6 linked regions of the Homo sapiens genome follow. The protein of the gene in region 3 interacts with the protein of the main gene of each other region in a pairwise test. Each region holds a gene or a part of one and is shown on either strand. Other genes may lie near its edges.

What was found.
Region 1: the proteins of FLCN (region 3) and ALDOB interact in a two-hybrid assay, tested with the Homo sapiens proteins (one large-scale study listed by BioGRID and IntAct).
Region 2: the proteins of FLCN (region 3) and FBP1 interact in a two-hybrid assay, tested with the Homo sapiens proteins (one large-scale study listed by BioGRID and IntAct).
Region 4: the proteins of FLCN (region 3) and HEMGN interact in a two-hybrid assay, tested with the Homo sapiens proteins (one large-scale study listed by BioGRID and IntAct).
Region 5: the proteins of FLCN (region 3) and TMEFF1 interact in a two-hybrid assay, tested with the Homo sapiens proteins (one large-scale study listed by BioGRID).
Region 6: the proteins of FLCN (region 3) and CCDC180 interact in a two-hybrid assay, tested with the Homo sapiens proteins (one large-scale study listed by BioGRID and IntAct).

Annotation. Positions count from the first base shown.
Region 1 is NC_000009.12:101,422,918-101,425,774, forward strand, and holds part of ALDOB (fructose-bisphosphate aldolase B), read right to left. Parts: intron 2,711-2,857; coding exon 2,536-2,710; intron 2,126-2,535; coding exon 1,926-2,125; intron 1-1,925. UniProt on the Homo sapiens protein: Catalyzes the aldol cleavage of fructose 1,6-biphosphate to form two triosephosphates dihydroxyacetone phosphate and D-glyceraldehyde 3-phosphate in glycolysis as well as the reverse stereospecific aldol addition reaction in gluconeogenesis.
Region 2 is NC_000009.12:94,605,576-94,608,518, forward strand, and holds part of FBP1 (fructose-1,6-bisphosphatase 1), read right to left. Parts: intron 1,378-2,943; coding exon 1,240-1,377; intron 2-1,239; coding exon 1-1. UniProt on the Homo sapiens protein: Catalyzes the hydrolysis of fructose 1,6-bisphosphate to fructose 6-phosphate in the presence of divalent cations, acting as a rate-limiting enzyme in gluconeogenesis. Plays a role in regulating glucose sensing and insulin secretion of pancreatic beta-cells.
Region 3 is NC_000017.11:17,223,669-17,227,168, forward strand, and holds part of FLCN (folliculin), read right to left. Parts: intron 2,655-3,500; coding exon 2,508-2,654; intron 844-2,507; coding exon of another isoform or gene 790-843; intron 476-789; coding exon 254-475; intron 1-253. UniProt on the Homo sapiens protein: Multi-functional protein, involved in both the cellular response to amino acid availability and in the regulation of glycolysis.
Region 4 is NC_000009.12:97,928,173-97,931,672, reverse strand, and holds part of HEMGN (hemogen), read left to right. Parts: intron 1-451; coding exon 452-1,638; intron 1,639-3,500. UniProt on the Homo sapiens protein: Regulates the proliferation and differentiation of hematopoietic cells. Overexpression block the TPA-induced megakaryocytic differentiation in the K562 cell model. May also prevent cell apoptosis through the activation of the nuclear factor-kappa B (NF-kB).
Region 5 is NC_000009.12:100,546,149-100,549,648, reverse strand, and holds part of TMEFF1 (tomoregulin-1 precursor), read right to left. Parts: intron 1,906-3,500; coding exon 1,757-1,905; intron 1-1,756. Other genes in the region: MSANTD3-TMEFF1 fusion protein, read right to left, coding at 1,757-1,905.
Region 6 is NC_000009.12:97,376,455-97,379,251, forward strand, and holds the end of CCDC180 (coiled-coil domain-containing protein 180), read left to right. Parts: intron 1-308; coding exon 309-440; 3' UTR 441-2,297; downstream 2,298-2,797.

The sequences.
Region 1 (2,857 bases), on a different chromosome or scaffold from region 3:
CAAAACCAAAATCACCTTCAGGTGATTCAGATCCACACTGGAGCTTGGGAAGCACCATCCTTGATGATAAACTCAGCTTCCCTTCTTCTGTGTGGATGTCCCTGATGACCTGCGCTTTCACAATCCCTCCATCATGTAAGCTAGGTCTCCTCAGTCCATCAGCCACACAGCAGCACTGCTGCACCCTGCTTTCCACAGTCAAGGTAAAGCACTACTTTGAAAATCTGATACCTCTCTTATGCCTGTGAGATGATGATTTAGCTTCCCTGGGGCCTTCCTTCCCTTTAGGGCCTCATCACCACACTTCTGACTACTCTTGATTCCTTGCCTAGCTTCCTCTATGGTCAGCAAGCTAACAGAGGCTATCGGTAAAATTTGTCACTCTTCTACCTTCCTATTAAACTTTCACTCTTCTACCCCGCTATTTTGCGTTCTGAATCTTCCTGCATGCTTTAGACTGCTGTTAGGAAAACTCAGGAATGAAGCTACCACACACTCACTCTTATTTCAGCTGCACATTACCTGATGCTTGGCTATGTCTGGCCATAACGTCCGATCAATTTCCTAGCAAGTTCCTTTAACTGCTTTTCTACGCTTTCCGACTGTCAGTATTGAAATTTCCATTTCTTCATCATTCTCAGCAGATACCCTCAACTGTAATCAGTCATCAACTGCTACATCTCTTGACTTATATAGAGCTGATTCCAACTGTATTCTCTTTTCTGCCTCTTCCCTCCTTTTTGTCTTACACCAGCTGTGCCACCTATGCTTAATATTGAGTCTCATGCAGTCCTGCTCCTCTAAGTTCTTCTCCACTCAATTATCCCCACTCTCCTCATCTTTACTGTCTCCTCTGGCTCCTCTTTCTTTACATTTAAACATGCCAAGCTCTCTCCTATTTGGCTAAACTCCAAGCTTCCTGGAGGACATGGCTATGTCTCATTTGTTCACCCCAGTTCTTGGCTCATAAAGCGTATTTTAAAAATTTTGGTTATTATTTGAATAAAAACTTTGTTGGTCCTCATTTCTCCTGGCAACCTTTCTGGGTCTTTTTCTGAAAAACTTCTTGAGTGGGCACCTTTCCTTTCCTCTTTATTGAAACTGTTTCAGTGAGGGTCACTGGTATGCTCCTAAATGCCAATCTCAGGGTCTTTTCTTGGCCTTTCTTTTGAATCTCTCTATAGCATGTTATTATTGGCCCTTTGAAATTGTTTACCCGGCTGGGTGTGGTGGCTCATGTCTGTAATCTCAGCACTTTGGGAGGTTGAGGTGGGCAGATCACCTGAGGTCAGGAGTTTGAGACTAGCCTGGCCAACATGGTGAAACCCCATCTTTACTAAAATATACAGAAATTAGCCAGGTATGGTGGCGCATGCCTCTAGTCCCAGCTACTTGGGAGGCTGAGGCAGAAGAATTGCTTGAATCCAGGAGGTGGAGGTTGCAGTGAGCCGAGATTGTGCCACTGTACTCCAGCCTGGGTGACAGAGTAACACTCCATCTCAAAACAAACAAACAAACAAACAAATAAACATGAAAGAAAGAAATTCTTCTGTCTTTATTCCCAGAATGCTTGGTTCACCCTACAATATAATCGCTGCTTTTCTTGGTTGCTTCTCTTCTTCATCTTCCCAAAATAAAAAGTATCCTAGGTTCAGTTCTTGGTCCTCTTATCTCCTTCCCTCTGAAGTGTTTCTGTTGAAATTGTCCTTCAGTCTCCTGTCATCAACTATACTCTAGTGTGGATAATTCAAAATTCTCTCTAGCCTCAATCCTCATACTGACCTCTACTGCCACATTTTCAAATGCCTAATAGACACTATCGGTAGATACCTTCTTGGCCCAAAGAAAACAATGCTTCTCCGTGTTGGAAAGTCAAGCCCCAAATGTGAACATCATCAAGTAGATAAGAGGTGGCAGCATCTTACCATGGCCCGCTTCATAAAAGCCTCCTGGGTTGCCTCCTTGTTTGCAGCCTTGCCACCCCAGGCAGCCAGTGCACTGGCCTGCAGGGCCCGTCCATAAGAGAAACTTAGTTTCCAGGGCTTTGGTAGAGGGCAAAGGTTGATAGCATTGAGGTTGAGAGTGGCATCCTCTTCACTCATGCCACCAGACAAAAAGCAGATGCCTGGTAGGAGAGAAGCCATTTCACTCTATTAGTCCCACCTTATATACCCTGCTTGAGAAAGCAAGCAATGAACCTACCAGAAAAGTAATGTCTCAGTCTTTTCTCTGCTTAATTTGCCTTAAAGCAAACTGAGAAATCAGTTTGCTTTTGCTGAAGCTAGTTGGGCTAGAGATAAGTGCTTTAAATACGTAAGGAAGGCAGTGAAATGTTGAAGAAATACATGGATTGTGGGCATTTGGGCAGACTTGGGATGCTTGGTATTCTGAAGTGGGAGAAGAAGTGCTGGCTGCCTGTGAGATAACAGAGGTTTGTTTCATGAATAGAAGCAGATTTCTGGACAAACAGAAAGCTTGTGGCTCTCCAAAGAATGAGGGCTAAGACCTTGAGTTAGAGAAGAAAGAAGGCCTTACCAGGAACAGCTGCAGGAACAGTACGGTGGAGAGCTGTTACGGTGGCCATAGCTACTTGTTCTGGAGTATACTTCTTGGTGCAGGCATGTCCAGCAGTCACCATGTTGGGCTTTAGCAGGGTGCCCTCCAGGTAAACATGATGGTCATTCAGGGCCTTGTAGACAGCAGCCAGGACCTGAAGGACAAGAGGTCCCACCAGGTGAAACTCAAAGCTAGTCATAGAGCCACTTGACCTTGGCACATTTACACTGCAGGGAGGCAGGATGAAGGAATTCTTATTTGTTGCTTGGCAAAAGCTTCTGAACCAATCTCCAGGCCTCAT
Region 2 (2,943 bases), on a different chromosome or scaffold from region 3:
CCTGCAAGTTAAGACCAGCAAGAATTAGGATTGCAGAAAATAAGAAAGAGAGTTTTCTTGGTGTCTCCTAAGTTTCTTTGATTCCACATCCATTCACCGAGCACCTACAAGGTATGTATTTGGGGCTGTGCTAAAAAATGTGATGAGAATCCTGTTCCCAATAAATAGAAAATGGAAAAATGGAGACAGCCTCTCATCATCTCACAATAGGTCAGATTGCCCACAGAAGCCCCAACGAGGGTATGGTTGATTCTGGTTATGGGGCTGAGGCAGGCATTACAGAAACTGTACCATTTAGTAACACCTTAAAGGCTGAGAAAGTTTGTTACCAAGCTAAGGAACCGGGCAGGGGTGGGAGGCAGTGTGTAATTTACAGGAGAGGAAACTGCACAAGTGTCTGCTTAGCAATGTGGAGAGGGATATGGTCCTGGAGGAGGAGCCTGTGGGACTCGGGTGTGCGTGTGCGGAGCTTGGGGGCAGGAGGGGAATCCAGGATAAGGTGAAAGGAGAGATGAGTAAGCTGGAGAGAAAGCCTGGGGCAGATCTGAGGCCTCCTTGAACGTCCTGCAAACATTTGAGCTTCATCTCTAGCAAACAGCAGCCATCGATGGCTTTTAAACAAAGAAAGGACAAAATCAGATATTCCATATAGAGCAAGCTCCACACAGCCATTTCTTCTCTTCATATTCACTAGCTTGTAACCTCTTTAGGGAGATGTCACGATGGGCACTCTCGGTCTCGAGATAACTGATAGATGCACCTCAGGCAGGCCTAGCAAGGGGCAGACACCACTTGACGGGCATTTGAGTGGGGGAACCACATTTCATCCCATCTGGGACCATGGACCCCAGAAGGGAAGATGTTTTACTGCCATGAATTCATTCATTTGTTTAACTTTATTATCCTAATTTTCTTCTGCCAAGAGAAAGTAGCAAAGGCTGACATGGAGACTGATTTTTGATGTCTCAGGGTGAGAATTCCAGTCTCCAGTACTGAGGTGAGAACTTCATCGTGGGCTCAGTGTAGACGGAAGCCCAATCCACTCCATCCCTGCTTCCTTTCACCTTTAGGGTAAGTCATCAACCAATAGATTTCCACACTGCTCAGGAGCCCCACATGAGGCCCAAGGCCCTCGATCCCAAGGATCCCTTTCATCTCCGGGGGATGCCCCTGCCTCCAGAACGGCCTCTGGTGCCAGATGCCCAGAACCTGCACCACCCTCCCCGGGCCCTCACTTACTGGGGGGAACTTCTTCCTCTGGATGTACTCAGTGACGGCAGGGTCAAAGTCCCTGGCGTAGCCCTCGTTAAGGCTGTAGATTTTACCTTTCTTTTTTATCTTCACATCCTTGTCCACCAAAATGAACTCCCCGATGGCCTTTTTAGACAAGGAAGGAAAGGTGGAGAGATGACGAGCGCACTGGGTCCCCCAGGCCTGGATGAGGCGAGCGATGGGCTGGGCTACGCTGGGCTGGGGTCGCGGCGCACGGGCACCACTCATCTTGGGGCCCCGAGACACCTGCCAGGCTCTCTGGGAACTGTGAATGGGGTGAGGGGAAGCAAGACAATGCTGCAGAAGCCATCAGGGTGATAACAGACACTTTCGACTTTGTTTGCATATGATTTCAGTCAAACAAGAAAGAAACCACACAAAAATAGGGAGAGCAGACTTGTGAAACAACTGCTAAGCCTGCAAGAGAGTAAGAACCGTGTGTCCAAAGCAATATAAGATGTGTATGCCTTTACCAAACAGAAAAAAGGGTTGGTTCAGGCGGGAGGTGGGCTCTCAGGAGAGACGGGCCACCGCAGGATCAGTCCCTGAGTTACACCCAAGTGCTCAGCGCTGTTCTCGGCTTTACATTTCTACCTTGATGGGAGTTCTCCTTTCTGGGCGTTCTTATAGAACAAAGTAGAACCCTGAGTTTTGAGTCTGGCGTACGTAACTTCCGATGGCCTTTGCTCGCTGGCGTGTGAAGTTTTTCTCAGACTGCCTCTTCCCACATAGCCCAGGGTTAAGCTTATGCCTTTAAGCTTTAGGCTCTTCAAAGGAGATTTGAATTTGGGGGAAAAGTGTTGCAGAAGTCCTATTGCTCCGGATTGAGGATTGTTATGGGTTCCTGTGTGTTTTTGGCAAGAGGGTGATCGAGGCTCTGCCCATTTAGGAGGGGCTTGACGTTGACACAAGAGTTGAAAAGAAAAAAGGCCCACCGACACCTCTCTACCTAGCCATTTATTCCACAGCAGAAATTGGTTCCTACCCATATGGAATACGTTGAAACCAGACAGACAGGGAGAAAGGGAGGGGAGAATTCACAGTGGCCATTGAAAGGTGTCACTGGAAGTGATTCTTCTTTCTTACTTTTATGCCTTTTTTAATATTTTCAAAATTTTTGACCACAAGTATACCGGAATATTCTTTTATCGTTGGTAGAAAAATAAATAAATAAATGTCTTTCAAAAAACTATATAGAAAAGAAAGCCATCTCACAACAGTTGCTGGGTGCAGAGCGCAGGGCCCAGCCAGACTGTCCATGGTGCAAAGGAGGAAAGTCTGTGTACAGAGACAAAACATAAAAGCTCCCAGAAAGTTGAAGCCGCTGGAAACCCGAGTACAGCTGTAGCAGTGTTTTCAGCAGAAACCGTCAGCCTGGCTTTGCAGCAAGCGCAAACAAAGAGGAAGCACTTAGCACCTCCCTGGCGGGAGGCTCAGCCCCGTCAGGCACCGCAGACAGAAGGGCTGGAATCAAATCCCAGCAGCCCTGCATTGCGCTTCCAAACATTCAGGACTGAGGAGGGCAAAAGACTATCAAACACACAGAAGCTTCCCTACAGGGATGCTCCCCTGCAATCTGGAAACAAGAAGGGATTGAATGTTTTCTCTGCTTCCACCAACTCAAAGGTAACAAGAGAAGGCACCAGAAGAATGGGAAGCAGTCAGGGCCCG
Region 3 (3,500 bases):
ACTGCAGCAAAGAAACCAGAGCTGAGCGAGAACCAGGACAACGGGCACAAGAGAGACCAGCAAAGCAGGCGGGATGGCCTGGGAGGCTCCTCACGACCTCCAGCTCTGAAGCCAAGAGACTACAATTCACACAGTGCACTGGCTGTAAGCAGAGGGGAAGACGCCACGCGGTCTCCAGGCCTCAACCTCAGCACAGAGCGGCTCATGCAGTGCAGGGCCCCCTGCCGCCCCGGCACCTCATCTCTGAATTCACCTTGAGCGCCTTGCCCTGGAGCTCATCGATGATTCCCCGGACCTTCCCCAGCAGGAAGGGCCAGGAGTTGATGAGGTAGATCCGGTCCATCATGATGGTGATGATGCTGTACCAGCGCTGGAAGCCCCTGGCCAGGCTGTCCTTGATGAAGAAGGTGTGGCTGAACACAAAGCCGTGCTGCTCATCTCCGAAGAAGATGGGGCCTTCACGGCCAGGGCAGACCTGGAGGGACACCGGCGACTCAGACAGCCCTTTCCTCGCTTAGTGACACCAAATCAAAGCCTCTTCTTCAGACTTTTCAGAGTCAGCTGGCACAAATCAGCCAGCGTTAATAACGGGGAGAGTGGCACAGTGGGGGCCATGAGAGCCGAAGACTGTACTCTTCTGCTCCTGTGATCAAGCTTCCAACAACACTTGTCATTGTGGACTGCAAGGGCCGGTAACAAGGCTTATTGCTTTTCTTCCACCTTGAGCCATAAATAACTCCCATGCATATGTCACACCTCTCCCAGACTCAAATGTACCAGCTTACTCACCTGGAGCATGCAGAAGAACCAGCAGGTCAGAGCAGCCACTGCACTCTCCCTGCACTGAAATCCGCACATTTTATTCTTTCTTTCTTTCTTTATTTGAGATGGAGTCTCGCTCTTGTCACCCAGGCTGGAATGCAGTGGTGTGATCCTGGCCCACTGCAACCTCCGTCTCCTGGGTTCAAGCAATTCTCCTGCCTCAGCCTCCTGAGTAGCTGGGATTGTAAGAGTGTGCCACCACGCCTGGCTAATTTTTTTGTATTTTTTTTAGAGAGGGGGTTTCACCATGTTGGCCAGGCTGGTCTCGAACTCCTGACCTCAGGTGATCTGCCGGCCTTGGCCTCCCAAAGGGCTGGGATTACAGGAGTGGGCCACCATGCCCAGCCCCACGTACTTTATTCTTATAAGAGGATTTCAGTCCCTCCTCATTACATACTTACTCTTCCTTAACACACAATTCTAACAGACATGCCGAGCTGCCTGCTAGCAGACCAGCGGTAGGAAATTAAAAGGAGAGGACAGTTGAGGGCAGGCACACAGCCACACTGAATGAGAACAGTAAGGGAGCTTGGTGTGTCGAACTGGGTGGACACCAATGACAAGGAAGTTTAGTAACTGAACGACGAATTCTTTGTAACAAAGACCTGAGCTCAGAGTCAAGAGCAACAGCAGCAGCGACGTAGTTTAGGAAGAAATCATCCACACCTCAGCAGGCTGAGAGCAGCACGGGATCATCACTGAGACTTGGAATGAGGACTGAGATAATAAAAAAAGGTGATGTTGATGCAATGAACCACCTAACCTAGAAATGCTTCCTATCTTAGGAATACATCCATCAAGAATAGACACACATGGCTGGGCATGGCGGCTCACACCTGTAATCCTAGTGCTTTGGGAGGATGAGCCAGAGGATTGCTTGAGTTCGAGACCAACCTGGGCAACATACTGAGACCTCATCTCTACAAAAAAATTTTAAAAAGGTGGGGCACAGTGGCTCCCACCTGTAATCCCAGCACTTCGGGAGGCCGAGGCGGGCAAATCACAAGGTCAGGAGTTCAAGACCAGCTCGGCCAACATGGTGAAATCTCTTCTCTACTAAAAATACAAAAAATTAGCCGGGCATGGTGGCACACGCCTGTTGTCCCAGCTACTCAGGATAGCTGAGACAGAAGAATCACTTAAACCCAGGGTGGAGGTTGCAGTAAGCCGAGATTGCACCACTGCACTCCAGCCTGGGCAACCGAGTGAGACTCTGTCTTAACAACAACAAAAAACAAACCCCAGTTGAGCATGGTGGCACACACCAGTGGTCCCAGCCACCTGGGAGGCTAAGGCGGGAGGATCGCTTGAGCCCAGGAGTTTGAGGTTGCAGTGAACCATGACGGCACCACTGCACTCCAGTCTGGACGACAGAGCGAGACCCTGACACAAAAGAAGGAAAAAAGAAAACAATAATAATAAAGAAAGGACAAATAATAAAAGTTCGGTGCTTAAAGTGCAAAAGCTAGCACTCAATCAGAAAATGCTCAGCAAGTCCAACATGACTCCTCCCGCAATTCTGGACAAGGGAGGCGTCCTGTACCCTGTGCTGTGCTGATCTGCGGGTCCGCCCTGAGAGAGGACCAGTGCCTGCCTCCCTGTGCAATGCTGGCTCCGAGCCCACCCAGAGCACCTGGGAGCATGTGGGCTCCCACAGAGACAGGCTCTGTGGCCACAAGGCTCACCTCACAGCTCAGGCTCCGGACACAGGCCTGGCGGACAATGCTGAAGAGCTGGGGGTGGCTGGGGTGCTGGTGGCTGACGTATTTAATGGAGGTCTCTTTATCATGGCTGATATATCCCGGGTGCCCTGCAGCAAGTGACCGGCAGCCCTGTCCATGAAAAGGAAAAGTAAATCTGTTAGTTGGGAAGCAGGGCGACAAACTCTCTTAGGTTTATGCAAATCTGAGCTCGGAAAACTCAAGCTATTTTTGTAAAAAAATAATTGGCTTCCAGATTTATACTTATCTGAAGATTTAAATGTTTCCTAAAGAGGAAAACAGAACACAGAGATCGCAGAGATTGCCAGAGGTTGTTCCTAACAGGTATTTGCTGAGCACTTACGAAGTAGGTAACATGAAAAGGGCCCTGCATGCTCCATCTCATTCAATCCCAAGTGCCACCCTCTGAGATAATGTCAGTGAGAAGCCCCATTCTACAGAAGACAAAACTGAGGCTGAAGTGAGAAGTAGCTGGCCCGAGGGTGAGGGGCTCTGTGGTGGTAACACTACCCACTGCCCCCAGCCTCCATCATTGGTTCTGAACTAACACCTGGAAGGGGCTTCAGCCACAGGCGAGAGGCCCAATAAATAGGGCGAGCACCAAGCTCCAGGATGTTGGTGTGGCAGCTCACCACTGCTGCCCCGCTGCCCCGCTGCAGCCACAGCCACTCCGATGCTGAGGCTGTGCGCCCTGGAGCTGCTCCTACCCCAGGACTGTGCGGCAGTGCGTCAGCAAGACTCTCCCCACAGTGTCGCAGGATTCCTCCATGGGCAACCCCAAAACCAGCTCAAGGATGCCCCAGCAGCCTGGCGGTGCCCTCCTTCCCAGGTCTGAGGTGCTCCCCATCCCCCATTCCTTACAGGCAATTCCAGCAATGGATGCAGCTCTTACACGTCCTCTGCTTCTGCAGCAGAACCAAAAGAACAAGCTTGGGTTCCCGTTTGCACTGCAGTGGC
Region 4 (3,500 bases), on a different chromosome or scaffold from region 3:
TGCCAGGTCTAGAAACTCGATTTGTATGAGTTTACTCAGGGGTAGGGAAGTAACACACAAAGACTAAATGCAAAGAGACTAGTGTATAAACCAGAATGCCACTCTATTAATTTGTAATGAGAATTATTTATTTTCCATAACAAAACTTTAAGAATATGCTATAACACACGCACGCACGCATACGCGCATGCACTACCCTCACCAAGAAGGCTCCTGGTAAGCATGGTATCAATGCCACGAAGTCCTGGAGAAACATTCCCTCTCCTAAGAATTGAGAACATCTAGAGCTGCTCCTTCATTTTACAAACAAGGAGATTGAGGCCCAGAGAGATTAAGTGACTAGTTCATGATACTTGTGCAATGAGGCAGTGGGGGACCTGGCACTGTTATTACAAGCATTTATTTGAATTCTGTAGTACCACTGCTGACACTAATTCTGTTCTTTCTGCAGAGAACAGAAAAAACGCAAGCAGCAGAGAACAGGAAAAGGAAATCGAAGAGGCAGAAAGAGACAACAAAACACAGAATTGAAGGTGGAGCCTCAGCCACAGATAGAAAAGGAAATAGTGGAGAAAGCACTGGCACCTATAGAGAAAAAAACTGAGCCACCTGGGAGCATAACCAAAGTATTTCCTTCAGTAGCCTCCCCGCAAAAAGTTGTGCCTGAGGAACACTTTTCTGAAATATGTCAAGAAAGTAACATATATCAGGAGAATTTTTCTGAGTACCAAGAAATAGCAGTACAAAACCATTCTTCTGAAACATGCCAACATGTGTCTGAACCTGAAGACCTCTCTCCTAAAATGTACCAAGAAATATCTGTACTTCAAGACAATTCTTCCAAAATATGCCAAGACATGAAGGAACCTGAAGACAACTCTCCTAACACATGCCAAGTAATATCTGTAATTCAAGACCATCCTTTCAAAATGTACCAAGATATGGCTAAACGAGAAGATCTGGCTCCTAAAATGTGCCAAGAAGCTGCTGTACCCAAAATCCTTCCTTGTCCAACATCTGAAGACACAGCTGATCTGGCAGGATGCTCTCTTCAAGCATATCCAAAACCAGATGTGCCTAAAGGCTATATTCTTGACACAGACCAAAATCCAGCAGAACCAGAGGAATACAATGAAACAGATCAAGGAATAGCTGAGACAGAAGGCCTTTTTCCTAAAATACAAGAAATAGCTGAGCCTAAAGACCTTTCTACAAAAACACACCAAGAATCAGCTGAACCTAAATACCTTCCTCATAAAACATGTAACGAAATTATTGTGCCTAAAGCCCCCTCTCATAAAACAATCCAAGAAACACCTCATTCTGAAGACTATTCAATTGAAATAAACCAAGAAACTCCTGGGTCTGAAAAATATTCACCTGAAACGTATCAAGAAATACCTGGGCTTGAAGAATATTCACCTGAAATATACCAAGAAACATCCCAGCTTGAAGAATATTCACCTGAAATATACCAAGAAACACCGGGGCCTGAAGACCTCTCTACTGAGACATATAAAAATAAGGATGTGCCTAAAGAATGCTTTCCAGAACCACACCAAGAAACAGGTGGGCCCCAAGGCCAGGATCCTAAAGCACACCAGGAAGATGCTAAAGATGCTTATACTTTTCCTCAAGGTAAGGGCTGTTTATAGCACCAAGGTAGGTACATCTCCCCCAGAGTAGTGATTTACAACTTTCTCTGACAATCCTGGGTATTCCCTGTTATTTCAATGGATACTGTGAATTTCATTGACTAGTTTTAAGTGAACAATATTTTCATGCAACCAACGTCTGTCTTGGCATATTTCAAAGAGTTAAAAAAATTGAAAATGCAAGCATGTACATTAAGTACTTATTCATACTATCCATCCATTATGAGATGCTATAGTCAGTGAAATGAACCCAATATAGGATGAATTATTGCAAAATATTTTTAAAAATTAAGTCTACATTAACAAGAAAGCTTGATGAATGAAGTTTTTCTAGGAAATTTAATTTGCCTGATAAATGGAAAGCAGGTAAATTCATAGTACGAAGTACTGAGGGAGATAAAAGCTGTAAAATATAATCCTGTTACTAGGGAATTCATTCTTGTAGGATTTATCAGGTTTACCAAAAACCCTTTCTATTTCAAGATTTGTTCCTGAAAAACTTTTTCCTAAGTATAGGAATTTGAAAATAATGCAACCTTTCTTTAATTTCACTTGCCTCAGAGACATAACTGAGAACTTCAGCTCTCTTTGTACAATACTGTAGACAGTATAAGAAATGGACTGAGTCTATCAGACCATAGTTATCCCCAGGAAACTGATTTCTAAAGAAATCCCTTTAGTAGTTTACTTGCTCTTTATCCTAAAAGATGAGTGCAACAAAAACATGGTGCTAGTTGGTTTCCAAGTAATACCAGTTTTGAAGAACTACTTTAAAGAAATACATTGCAGCAAAAGCAGGCATGTGAAGCAGTACGTGCACTGACAGGAGTACCCTGCTGGAGAAGCAGCTCTAACCAACACAGCGTCCTGATTCCTAACTGCTTCATTCTAAACCCAGCAAGGTCGATATGGTCAATTAATTAACGCTTATTTTATTTTTGGCTTTGTTTGACCAAATAAATGGGAATATCTATTTTTCCTGATTATAAAAGTAGTAAGTGTTCATTATAATAAAGCAATATGTAAGTGAATATCAAGTAAAGTAAAAGTCCCCTATAATACCATCTTCTATCTTCAGTTCCCAATGTTAAGGTTGTTTTGTTTCAACAAATGAGACAGTACCCATCCTATCCTGTAACTTGTTTTTGTTTTCATTTACAATATGTATTGCAGCCATCTTTATGATGTCTTTTGTAACAACTGCATAGTACTGTGCTATATGTATATTCAACCAGTCTCTATAAGGATGAACACTTAGGTTACTGCCAAGTTTTACTATTACAACAATGTTCAATGAACATCATTGGGAATAACATTTATTTAGTTAACATTTATCTGGTACTTTTCTATGTGCCAGACACCATATTAAATATTTTATGTGGTTTATTTTATTCAATGTTAAAAGCTCTACTGGATAAATAATACTCCCATTCTAAATATAAGGAAATGGAGGCACTGGAGGCTGAAGTTTGTCTGATTATTTCCTTTGAATCAACCCCTAGAAATCAAATTGTTGGGCCAAACGGTACCCAAATTTAAAGTTTGAATATACAGTCAGTCAGACTAGCCTCCAGAAATGTGGTAGCAATTCACACGAGACAGGTGCCTTTTCCCCACACCCTTGTCAGCACTGTACATTATGACATTTTAAAAATCCTTGTCTGTCTGCTAGGTTAAAAAATACACTTGATCGGCCGGGCGCGGTGGCTCACGCCTGTAATCCCAGCACGTTGGGAGGCCGAGGTGGGCGGATCACGAGGTCAGGAGATCGAGACCATTCTGGCTAACACGATGAAACCCCGTCTCTACTAAAATTACAAAAAATTAGCCGGGCGCGGTGGCGGG
Region 5 (3,500 bases), on a different chromosome or scaffold from region 3:
GAACTGCACCTGGACTGGGAAGACTATAAATGAGCCATAACCACGTGTTTAGAAGCACAAGCTTCCCAGTACTAGTGGAGGAGGCAAACGAAAGACATAGTTAGGTTTGTGAATGAAAAATTACAGAGGGGACTAAGACAAAACTTAAGGCCCAATCACTCTAAAGGATGCATTTCAATTAAACTCTCAAACTTGACTGATATGGTTTGGTTCTGTGTCCCTGCCCAAATGCCGTGTCTAATTGTAATCCCCAACGTTGGAAAAGGGGCCTTGTGGAAGGTGACTGGATCATGGGGGGCAGATTTCCCTCTCGCTGTTCTCATAATAGTGAGTGAGTTCTCACAAGACCTAGTTGTTTACAAAAGTGCATGACACCTCCCTTTGTTCTCTCTTCCTCCTTTTCCGGCCATGTAAGATGTGCCTGCTTCCTCTTTGCCATCTACCATGATTGTGTTTCCTGAGGCCCTCAGCCATGCTTCCTGTATAGCCTGTGGAACTGTAAGCCAATTATACCTCTTTTCTTTATAAATTACCCAGTCTCAGGTAATTCTTTCTAGCAACGTGAGGATGAACTAATACACTGACCAGGTGCTCTGAACTTGAAATTCCAAAGAGTAGAGTATCATTCAAATATGCATCTTTTCCTCAGAGAACATAGTCCTTCTCTAAGCTAGTCTTCCCACTCAAGCTCTAAATGCCACCCCACTGGGGTGGGGGGACCATACTTCTTCAAGATCAAGGCTAAGTGGGACATCTACCCAGAAGGGGTCCCTGTCAGTAAATGGTGTCCTCTATCATGCCCACACTCAACTCCTACCTAAAAATTGTCTGATGAGCTTCCTGGGTATTCTTTGGTAGTTTAGACCAGAGGTACTGCAATCAATTGTGTAGTGTGTCACAAATAATTTGTTACCAATATAATGTACCAAATTTTGGCTTACAACCTTTTCCCTTTAGCTCAGATAAAAACATAATATCCCTTTAATAAGTCTAAAAAGGGAGGAAGAAGGGAACCAGTAAGCAAGAAAGATATACAATCCTAGTCCATGAGAGTGTGCCTGGTCCACATATGTGACTGAGGAAATAATCCATCTTCCCAACTCATCTGAATATTACTGGGGAAAGAAAATTGGGAACTCTGGCTTTAGAGACTGAATATTTCTAGTAGGGGTGGAAAACAAAAACTCTTTCTTATATGGTATCATGGTTTCTAAGCTATAACAAAAAGCAAGAAGGGTGAAAAGAATTTTAAGCTAAAGGCAATAATTTTTCCTTACATTCTCTAACTTCACACCAAAATCTGTATCATACATAATATGTACAGGGAAAATGATACAGATAATGGAAAAACAAAGTAAACTATTATGCTCTATAAAAAGAGGTTTAACAAATATATGGCAATAACATAGTTTTACTGAAATTAAAATAAGTTATCTAACTCTTAAATAGCTATAATCATTCCAAATTTGAGATGATATTAGAACTATAAATAATAATTATAATTCCATGTTAGGATCAGCTAGCAACCAAGAACTAACTAAATAAAAAACCAAGAAGCATGGTTTATGTCTTGAGAAGATGAAAATAATGAAAAAAAACTAAATTAGTAATAAAAAATCTGAAATATAAAGTAATAAAAAAATAAAGCTTCGAGGATTTCTCATTTTACAAATTTGAAACACTACCAAATGTACAAATAAGATTACATTTATACAATAATAAAGATGGGTCTCTGAATAAATAAAATGGATTTTACCTGTGCAATGACCAAGATGCCTTATATCAATTTGTTCTTGCTTTATACAAGATGCTTCTCGAACAAAACAGGGATTGTTATAGGAACTCCCATCAGAAGCACACACAGGATTAAAACTGTATCCACTGCAATCTATATTACATACACACCTGTTGGAAAAGACAAAAATTACCTATATTTTACAACAAAAATATTTCACAATGCTGCAACAGCAAAAAAGACCAATTCTTTCTTCTGCTTTCTGTAACAGAAGTCAATATATTGTTTTAAGTCACTGATGAAAGCTTAAGCAAAGTAAATACCTAAAAAAATTTTAGGTGAGGATTTAGAGATAATTTCATCAAGATATTATGAATCCAGTGGTTTCTCTGGAATTTTCATATCTAGATAAAGTAATCAGGAGATGTCAAATATCAATGACATTAATTAAATAGCAAAATGGCACATTGTAAAGGACACAGAATTATGAGTCAATAGTCACAAATCTAAATTCTACCCCTAGTTATTACCAGATTTGTATCCAAATTCTTCCTCTAAGTCTTAGTTTACTGATCAGTAAAATGGAGGTAATAATAATGGCCAGGCATGATGGCTCATGACTGTAATCCCAACACTTCGGGAGGCCAAGGTAGGAGAATCACTTGAGCCCAGGAGTTTGAGACCAGCCTAGGAAACAAAGCAAGACCCCATCTCTACAAAAAATAAAAAACTTAGCCAGGCACAGTGGTGTGTACCTGTGGTCTCCACTACTTGGAAGGCTGAGGCAGGAGGATCACTTAAGCCCAGGAGGTTGAGGCCGCAGTGAGCCATAATTGCACCACTGTACTCCAGCCTGGGGGACAGAGTGAGACCCTGTCTTAAATAAATAAATAACCTACCTTGCCAAATAACTGGGAAGGTTAAAAAATATAATAGACATGAAATATGTAAAATGGAAACCCTCAAAAGTGTTTTCTAGCTACATGTCTATCTGTGTAACTGAGTATCCACTGAACACTGAGTGTTGTACTACAGAGAAGGCAAAAGAAGTCCAAAGCAAGATTACTCCCCTCAAGAATAGTAAAATCTAGTTAGGAATAGAGAAACAAAAATAAAAATACAGAGACTCTCCTGTTTATAGCAACACAGAGGACTAGGAACCTTTACTAACCTTCCTGATAAAAACAACAAAAAACACTGGACAAACATTTTAAAACATTCTCTTAAATACATTCACAAGTTGGTAAGAAAGTCAGGAATATTTAGGACAGAAGTTATAAGTACACAGGCACAGAGAAAGGTCAATTGAGCTCTCTAAAGCTGATTTTCACTTTGAAGGCATTTGCCAAACTGGGTAAATTCAATTACCAATTTTTTGGCTTTGCAGGCCTGATGTGGTTTGGCTGTGTCCTTACCCAAATCTCATCTTGAATAGTAACTCCCACAATTCCCGTGTGTTGTGGGAGGAACCTGGTGGGGGGGGGATTGAATTATGGGGGAAGGTCTTTCCTGTGCTGCTCTCATGATAGTGAATGAGTGTCATGAGATCTGATGGTTTTTAAAATGGGAGTTTCTCTGCACAAGCACTCTTTTTGCCTGCTGCCATCCACGTAAGATGTGACTTGCTCCTCCTTGCCTTCCACCATGATTGTGAGGCCTCCCCAGCCACGTGGGTCTGGGGAACTGTGAGTCCAGTTAAACCTCTTTCTTTTGCCCAGTCTCGGGTATATCTTTATCAGCAGTGTGAAAACAGATTAATACAATA
Region 6 (2,797 bases), on a different chromosome or scaffold from region 3:
ACAGTGTGGGACAGAGCTCAGGAAGGAGTGCTGAGCCTAGAGTCAGATAGACACAGGTCCTAGTCCCTGCTCAGCCTCCTTCTAGCTGGGTGACCCCAGGCCAGGCTCTGAGCCTCAGTTTTCCTGTCTTGTAAAATGGGGAAAACAACTAGGACTACCTGGTTTCTACCTGAGAAGTGACTTGGAGAACTCTTGCCAGTGCCTGGAATGGGTTAAAAACCACCTGCCAGCAAGTTACAGCATTGCCCTAGGGGAGAGGGTCCAGATGTCTCTCCTCATGTGGACCCCTCCTGCTACCTTCCTTCTAGAAATATTTAGCATCATTTGAGGAGGAGCTAAAGAGGATCCAGGATGACTGTACATCTCAGATAAAGGAGGCTCAGCGCTGGAAGGACAGCTGGAAGCAGTCCCTGCACACTATCCAAGGCCTGTATGTGTGACCCTCCGCCCCACCATGAATAAACACTTTCTTATACAGACTCCTTCCCTGTCCATCTACCTGCCTACCTACTTTCCGTCCATCCCTCCCTCCCTTCATCCCTCCACCCCTGCTCTGTGCCGGGCACTGTAGCTTTACCAGCGAACAGGACACAGCATGGTCCCTGCCCACGTGGAGCCCTCTTCCCATGAGGAAGGCAAGCATGAAAGGGGAATTCCACGTGGTTAGCAGGGAGGGTGAGTACCAGGAATCAGTCACTTCAAATAGGCACCAGAGCTTCAAAGGACATCACCTCCAAACAGCATGCTGGGCAGGGCACGTCATCTTGAAAAATGAAATAAAGGTCATGGGAAAATGATATTTTAATTTAACAGAATAAACAAGTATGGGTTATAATTGCAACTCTGCACTGGTTCCTAGACCCAACAAATAACTAATCCAATGTTGATTGGTATTTGTGCCACAATTTGTCTGAGCAAATTGCAATATTTTGGAAAAAAAAAAATCTTCCAGGCTCCTTTAGTCCTGTGTTGCCCAGATCATTCTCTTGGAGTCCTCCAGCCTGCCAGTCTCTTGTTCGTCAACTCTCTTCTTCAATTACATGGCGTGAGCGTACAGCCTTCATTTGTCGGTAGCTGTGTGTGTCATCTGGACAGGTTTCCTCAGCCATAGACCTAGGAGGCCCCAGCTCCCAAATTTCCAGCCCCTGAAAGCTGTGTGACCCTCCAAGTGCAGTTCCCTCACCTGGGGACACTCACTCTGCTCTCCTGGTTTGCTCCACCCAGTGAGGCCCTGCTTGGTTAGCTTGGTTAGCTTGGTGGCCTTTGTGCACTGAAGCCAGGAGAGTGAGGAGTCCCCTTCCATCAAGGCAAAAGCAATCTCCTGTTCTTTTCTGTGCTCCCCCCACCCCCACCCCAATGTGCTACCTTTCATTGCTTATTATTCCGAAAGGAATATATGCGCATTGTAGAAAAAAGAATTTATGAAACCAGCAAAAGGATAACTTTAAAATCCTGAGCCGGGCGCGGTGGCTCACGCCTGTAATCCTAGCACTTTGGGAGGCCAAGGCGAGCAGATCATCTGAGCTCAGGAGTTCGGGGCCAGCTGAGGCAACATGACGAAACCCCATATCTACTAAAAATACAAAAAGTTAGCCAGGCATGGTGGCACACACCTGTAATCCCAGCTACTGGGGAGGCTGAGGCATGAGAATCGCTTTAACCTGGGAGGTGGAGGTTGCAGTGAGCCAAGATCATGCCACTTCACTCTGGCCTGAGCAACAGAATGAGACTCTGTCTCAAATAAACGAATAAATAAATAATAAAATCCTGGAATCTAGAGACAGTCACTGTCCATAGCATCTTTCCATGTATGTGAGTTATTTTTATAAAATGGAATCATAACATGCATTAGGTTCCATAAACTGCTTGGTAAATGTTAACTGGATAAACCCTATGCCATATCCTTCAGTATTCATTTACATCATTGGTTTTCATACTTTTCTGACTCTGACCCACTGTATAAACATGTTCTAAACACACGGTCCTTGCACACATACACAACTTGAGACCAACAGGTCACAGGACAGCACTTAACCTTACTAGAAAGGCTGCTTTCTAATATTTTCTCCCTGCTTTTTAAATCCTAGCCCAGTCCACTAACTCAGTTCATGGCCCACAAAGGGGCTTTGATTGCAGTGTGGGACACTGTCATTTAAACAGCTGCAGAGTGTTCCCACTGCCTGGGGAACCAGATCGCCTCTGTCGGACAAGGGCGAGGATGTCCCATGCAGGGCTCCTAGAAAGAAGGCAGAGATGACATCCTCCCACATTAGCTCTTTGTACACATCTGTAATCATTCCTTAATCAGAGGGTGGCAGCTGTGGACATGGTGCCAAGTCACCCTCCAGGGAAACAGGCCACCCCCTCCCACCATTAAGCAGTGCCCATTGCCCATTGCCCATTGCCCATTTTTCTCGTCCACACCAAGGGTTCTAGTTTCAGGATTTGGGGGAAATTTTTTGCTGGTTTGGTTGGTGAGAAATCATATCTAAATCACTTTTCTAATAGTGAGTGAGACTGGACTCTCATCACCCCTATACCTGTACCCCAGGGACCCCCTTAGGCTCAAGAGGCCCAGCTTGACAAGCACTGAAGGAACCCAATGCCACTTTGTCTACCTTTTGGCTACTGTAGATCCACACAAAAACTTGTTCATGACTGCCCGTAGCAGCACTAAAAAATAGTGCTGTTATATCTAAGACTCCATTGCCTAAAAGATAGTGCTGCTATGAGCAGTCATGAACAAGTTTTTGTGTGGATGCATATTTTCATTTCTCTTGGGTATATACCAATTACT